Homo sapiens: one gene and its partner. The protein of the gene in region 1 interacts with the protein of each later gene in a pairwise test. Each region holds a gene or a part of one and is shown on either strand. Other genes may lie near its edges.

Region 1 (2,956 bases):
CCCTAGACTTCCTAGATTTTCTGTGGCATTCTGTAGGACATTGTATTGCTTGGAAAAAAAAAGATCAAAATCATTCTGGGGCAAATGCTCTATTATCCTTATTTATGACAAGAGAATAATGAAATTCATAAGAAATTAATAACATTCAGATATTGCTATAAATGTACTTGAGTCATTTTCATTTGGGGATAGTAATAATGGCTGTGGCAGCTTTAATGGAGAAACCTGTGTTGGCCTCTTTTTCTGGCATTAGGATCTCTTGTCATAGAACTATTGGTAAAGTACAGGTTTGATAGCAGAGTTCCTGAATTCAGCATATCATCAGAATTTCCATTTACCTTTTGTCTTTTCTTTTTATTGTATTTTTTAACCTTTTTGTTTCTATTCCTACCTCCCATGAGTAACATTGATTTCTGCTGAAGTTAGAATTTGTGTTAAGAATTGACTTTAAACTTCTGAAATAGTTGAATATTAGAAGTGGCTTCAGTTGCCATGAAATGATTGCTTTTCTTTTTCTTTTTTTTTCCTTAAATAAAAATAATGCAGCCTTATATATGTCTCTTCCCCTCAAGAATGTGAATTTAGGCTGGGCATAGTGACTCACGCCTGTAATCCCAGACCTTTGGGAGGCTGACACGGGAAGATTGCTTGAGCCCAGGAATTTCAGACCAGCCTGGGCAACACAGGAAGACTCCATCTCTACTTAAAATATTTTTGTTTTTTAGCCAGGTGTGGTGGTATGTGCCTGTAGTCCCAGCTACTTGGGAGGCTGAGGTGGGAGGATCACTTGAACCCAGGAGTTTGGGGTGCAGTGAGCTATGATTGCGACACTGCACTCCAGCCTGGGCAACAGAGCAAGACCCTGTCTCAAAAAAAAAAAAAAAAAAAGAATGTGAATTTAGCTCCAATTCCAAATGACTAACTCTTAGGCCAGTCATAGCCAATGAAATCATCTGACGGTAGCTTCTGTAGCCCTTAACCTAAGGAGTCATTAGAGGTTATAGTAAATTAGTTTCTCTAGTGGTGCAGAGAGAAATGCCATCGGGGAAATTATCACTGTCTTTTTGGCTAAAGTTTTATATTGTGAACTGGATCCCACTTAACAGCTTAAAAACACAAAAATGAAAGGGTAGTCCTAGTTTATCTTCTTAATTAGAATCATTATTTGGAAATAAGATTTGCAATGTGCTGTCTATCCCCAAACACTGCTGAGCTTGCTGGAAAACAGAATTTAACATGAATGTTGTCTGAAAGCTGTAGGATCAATGGCAAAAAAGGGGAAATGTTTGGTAGGGAATTGGACCAGTTCTAAGGTATCACTTTTAATTATAAAATAATGTCTTCCTTTTTATCTGCTTTTCAGACAGCCTCAGTGAACTATTAAACATTTGTGTGCAAAGTCCTATTTTGCTTATCTAAGGCATTTTGACTTGGAAGTATTAAACTTCAGGAACGAGCTAGAGAAGACAATGAGGGTATGTTAGAGAAGGAAAAATAGGAGCTTTTTGCTTATGGATTTTAGAGGTCCACAAATCGAAAGGAAAAATAAATTTCTTCATTTCTAACCCTAAAATAATTTTGTTAATGAGATGCTGGGAAGAAGACTACCAAAAGGCCTCAAAGCTCATGCTTCTAGAATATTCAGTAATTCTGAATAGTCTTTGGGAAGTAGCATTTCTTGGGAAGTAGCATTTCCCTTCTTCCAAATAACTGTTTGAGATCTTAAAACAGAAAATCCAGTGTTAATGGGCTCTAGATCTTAAACTAGGTGAGCAGCTTCTTACATACAACCAGTTCCTTGTTAAGGATCCAGCAGGAAAACCAGCCATAAAACATTTCAACATGCAGTTTGGGGGCTCCCTTGCTTATTCACTGAGTTTAAGCTCTTGCTGCAACATAGCTCTGTACCATCTGGGATGCTAGCAGTCACAGCAGTTAGCTCAGATATCTGAGCTGTCTGCCACACAAAGCCTGAGGAGATCATCATTCTTCAGTTTCATTCATTACTTAATGAATGCCAAATTAATTGGCAGGAAGAAGAAACACTGTGTGATATACTGAACAAGCCTGTGTGCATGAATAAGGAGCCACTCAAAAAGCCAATTTTGAGCTTTATTTCTCCGTTGTTAACAAATCTCAAGAAAGCCTTTGTTACAGTTTAGCTCATGTCATTTGGTTGGTTTTATTTTCTAGCCCTTTAACATAGGAGGAAAATTGTCATTTCATGTATAACTTGTAACACAGAATTGAACTGATACTAGTTTCCTTGCCTTAAATTAATTATATGTCATCCCAAGGGTCTCTGTTAATTCTGCTTTGCCAAGCAATAATGAGATCTGGGTTTGGCATTAGAAGTATTTCATAATTTTGGTTTTTTATTTAGGTTTCCTCCACATCTGTAAAGTGATTGATTAAATTAGAGGAGGCGTGTAGAATAAATCCCAATCCCATTGCAACTGGCAGAGCTTTATAAATCTTTATAAATTCAGTTACAACAAAGGAGAGGATCCTACACCATTAGAGCCATGCCATCAGGTGTTTGCAAGTGACAGCTGTAGTGTGTTGCCTCAAATAATACCAAGTTATAAATAATACCAAGTAATTATCAACTCACTCCCAAATTTAATAAGATATCAAAGTCCAAAAGGTTACTTAGGAGTAGTCTTCCGTGGGGGAAGATAAATTTATTAAAGAGTCATGTACTGATCTTTTTCTTGGGATTTTTTTTCCTTTCCCAGAAAAAAAAATTATTTTGGTGACTGATCAATTGTAAACAATTTTCTTCCTTACTTACAAATCATCCGTTCAGAAAAATAAAAGTGGACTTCCTTTCCTAAGCATTACAATTAGCCTGGGCAAGAGGTGTTATGATTGTCTTATTCTTTAAGCCGGCTTACTTTTTGGATTTGTGTGAAATGTCTTTTGAAAAGAAAGTAGATAGTATAGTATTAATTAA
Region 2 (3,828 bases), on another chromosome or scaffold:
CCCACCCTACTTCCAACTCCCTAAAAGTCCACCATTCCTTTAGAGTTGTAGTATATTTATATCAATTACTGATAACTTTAGTGTAAATTAGGTTTAACCATTGTTTGTAATAAAACCTACCACTTTGTTGGGAGTAACTTTTAGAGGAAGAGATTCATGGGGTGAAATCTCACAGTCCCGGAAGCATGGGTTATACTCAGCTATTTAGTCAGGGTGTGCCAGCGATGAGTTTGCATGTTAGTACTTGTGATCCTTTTTCTCCCCTGTGATGTAGATTTGGTTTCCTTATTTCAGAGCTGGGAAAACACGTCAAGATAGATTAAAAGTAATCTGCCCGATACATAAAAAATCAACAACAACAAAAAAGTAATCTGCCCAAGATTATACAGCTAGGAAGGGTGAGGCCAGTATTTGAACCCAGGCTTTTTACTTGGTATTACAATTAATGAATTAAAAAAAAAGATTATAGGTATTTATTTATTTATTTATTTTTGATTATAGGTATTTATTTTTAAAAATCTTTATTTTCTTCTTAGCTTTGGCTTCAGTGACAAAGTCACCATGAATGGTCATGTCCCAGTTGGATTATATGGGAATGGCTTCAAGTCGGGTTCTATGCGTCTGGGTAAAGACGCAATCGTTTTTACCAAAAATGGAGAAAGCATGAGCGTGGGCCTTTTGTCTCAGACCTACTTGGAAGTCATAAAAGCGGAGCATGTTGTTGTTCCAATAGTGGCATTCAACAAGCACCATATCCTTTTGGTTGTGAAATAAAAGCTGTGGAGAAACTGAAGAAATAATTTGGAAACATTCTATGTTTTTGCCTTCTTCCAGATTATTCCCTTTGAATAACACCTATTCCATTTCTTACCTCTGTCCTCTGCATTTACCCTACACCTGAGGCTAAGGGTTTGTCCCTTTCTCTTCTCTGTTGGAATCCTGCTATGGAAATACTCAACATTTTATGTTAAACTTCCCATAGCTCTTCTGTTTACTTCAGGGTTATTGTAGACTAGTAAGACTTTATGGTTTGGCTTGAAAATTTGACTAGTGACCACAAAAGGCAGGATAACTTTAGGAAAATGCCTTTTGTATGAACACATTGGAATATTAGAAAGTATTAAGTTAGTTAGGAATAATAATCTGCTTATTTTTTATTCTTCTTCTTGTTCATTTGAAATCAAACTGCCATGTTAAAACTTAGAAAATAGGCTGAGCTCGGTGGCTGATCCCTGAAATTCCACCACTTTGGGAGGCCAAGACAGAAGGATTGCTTGAGCCCGGAATTTTGAGACCAGCCCAAGCAACGTAGGGAGACCCTATCTCTACAAAAAAAATTTAAAAATTAGCCGGTCGTGGTGGTGGGTGCCTGTGGTCGGTCCCAGCTAGGCTGCAGTTAGCCCTGATCATGTTACTGCACTCTAGCCTAAGCAATAGTGAGACCCTATCTCACAAAAAAAAAAACCTTAGAAAATTATTTATAAATAGTTTTTCTGTTATTTAAGTTTATAGAGTTAGTTTTCATATTGTAATTATGAAAACTATGTTGTCAATCTGAGTCTTTAACTTATGATATACGACAGATGATTAATTTAGCAGAATCAAAAGCCAGCCTTGCTGCAATTCTGGAACATTCTCTGTTTTCCACGGAACAGAAGTTACTGGCAGAACTTGATGCTATTATAGGCAAGAAGGGGACGAGGATCATCATTTGGAATCTTAGAAGGTAAACGTGGACATAGATGTTGACCGTTTGGGAAGTAAAGTGCACGTGCAGGGTGGTGGTGTTATATTCATCTCTCGTTACACACAGTAGAAATACATGGAAAGGTACTCATTTTTTGGTGTAGTTACTGATTTGTCTTTGCCCAGGATATGTTATAGAGGCCATTTCAGCTTCAATTTGAGATATTTTCATCTTGTTAAAAAAAATTTTTTTTTGAGACGAAGTCTCACTCTTGTTCCCCAGGCTGGAATGCGATGGCGCAATCTCAGCTGACTGCAGCCTCCGCCTCCTAGGTTTAAGCGATTCTCCTGCTTCAGTCCCCCGAGTAGCTGGGATTACAGTCGCCTGCCACCATGCCCGGCTAACTTTTGTATTTTAGTTGAGACAGGGTTTCACCATGTTGGCCAGGCTGGTCTAGAACTCCTGACCTCAGGTGATCCACCCGCCTTGGCCTCCCAAAGTGCTGGGATTACAGGCGTGAGCCACCACACCCGGCCAAAAAAAAAAATTTTTTTCTATCCCTGCCATTCAGTCTCCATTAGCACTCTATTCTCTCTCATTTATTCCACCCCGTCTTCTCAAAAAAAAAAAAAAAAAAAGAAAAAAGAAAAAAAGCAATGAGAAGACAAATTCAGGAGGATAAATCTTTCTTCATTGTGTACATTACTTAAAACTAAAAGTGATGTAGCACCTGATGAGAAAAGTAATATAGGTGAGATTTTTGTGTTGCTAAAATTTATAATCCTTTATCTTTGTGAGGATAAAATCCTTCGCAAATAAATTTTAAAATTTAAGACTAATGTCTAATACTGAAAGATCTAAGACATACTGAATCACAGGAATAAAGCACAGGTAGTGATAAGCCTAAAGAACTGAAAAAACTTGTGCTATTCTGATACCTGAATTCGTTTTTCTTGCTTTCACTTCCCTACCCCTCCTTCTCCTGGAGGATTTTTTCAATTATACTTTCTGAGGTAATTGTAGATTCATGTGTAGTTGTAAGAAGTAATAGAGAGATGTTAGGTACACTTCATTCAGTTTCCCCTGCTGGTAACATCTAACAAAACTATAGTACAGCCAGGCACACTGGCTCACACCTGTAATCCCAGCACTTTGGGAGGCTGAGGCGGGTGGATCATGAGGTCAGGAGATCGAGACCATCCTGGCTAACACGGCGAAACCCTGTCTCTACTAAAATTACAAAAAATTAGCTGGGCGCGGTGGCGGGCGCCTGTAGTCCCAGCTACTAAGGAGGCTGAGGCAGGAGAATGGCGTGAACCAGGGAGGCGGAGCTTGCAGTGAGCCGAGATAGCACCACTGCACTCCAGCCTGGGCGAAAGAGCGAGACTCTGTCTCAAAAAAAAAAAAAAAAACTATAGTACAGTAGTACTATTGATATTGACAGGATTTTGATGTTGATACAGTCAAGATGCAGGACACTTTAGTCATCACAGGAATCCCTCATGTTGCTCTTTTGTAGCCATACCCACTTCCCTCATAACCCCACTCCCTCCTTAATCCGTGGCAACCTCTAATCTGTTCTCTATTTCTATAATTTTGCCATTTTAAGAATATTACATAAACAACATGGAAACCTTTTGGATTTGACTTTTTTCACTTAGCATAACTCCTGGCGTTTTCCAGGTTCTTGTATGTATAGTTTGCACCTTTTCCTTTTTCTTTTTTTTTTCTTTCTTTTCTTTTCTTTCTTTCTTTCTTTTTTTTTTTTTTGAGATAGCGTTTTGCTCTTTCCCCCAGGGTGGAGTGAAGTATAGCGCCATCTCGGCTCACTGCAACCTCCGCCCACCGGGTTCAAGCGATTCTGCTGCCTCATCCTCCCGTGTGGCTGGGATTATAGGCACCTGCCACCATGCCTGGCTGATTTTTGTGTTTTTAGTAGAGACAGGGTTTTGCCATATTGACCAGGCTGGTCTTGAACTTCTGACCTCAGGTGATCCACATGCCTCAGCCTCCCAAAGTGGTAGGATTACAGGCGTGAGCCACTGCACCCAGCCAGTTTGCACTTTTTTCTTGCTGAGTAGTGTTTCATTGTATGTATGGAACCCAGTGTGTTTACCTATTCAAGACATCTAGGTTTGTAG

What was found.
Region 2: the proteins of MKLN1 (region 1) and MORC3 interact in a two-hybrid assay, tested with the Homo sapiens proteins (one large-scale study listed by BioGRID and IntAct).

The regions. Positions count from the first base shown.
Region 1 is NC_000007.14:131,491,866-131,494,821, forward strand, and holds part of MKLN1 (muskelin), read left to right. Parts: 3' UTR 1-2,956. UniProt on the Homo sapiens protein: Component of the CTLH E3 ubiquitin-protein ligase complex that selectively accepts ubiquitin from UBE2H and mediates ubiquitination and subsequent proteasomal degradation of the transcription factor HBP1.
Region 2 is NC_000021.9:36,337,196-36,341,023, forward strand, and holds part of MORC3 (MORC family CW-type zinc finger protein 3), read left to right. Parts: intron 1-536; coding exon 537-751; intron 752-1,578; coding exon 1,579-1,726; intron 1,727-3,828.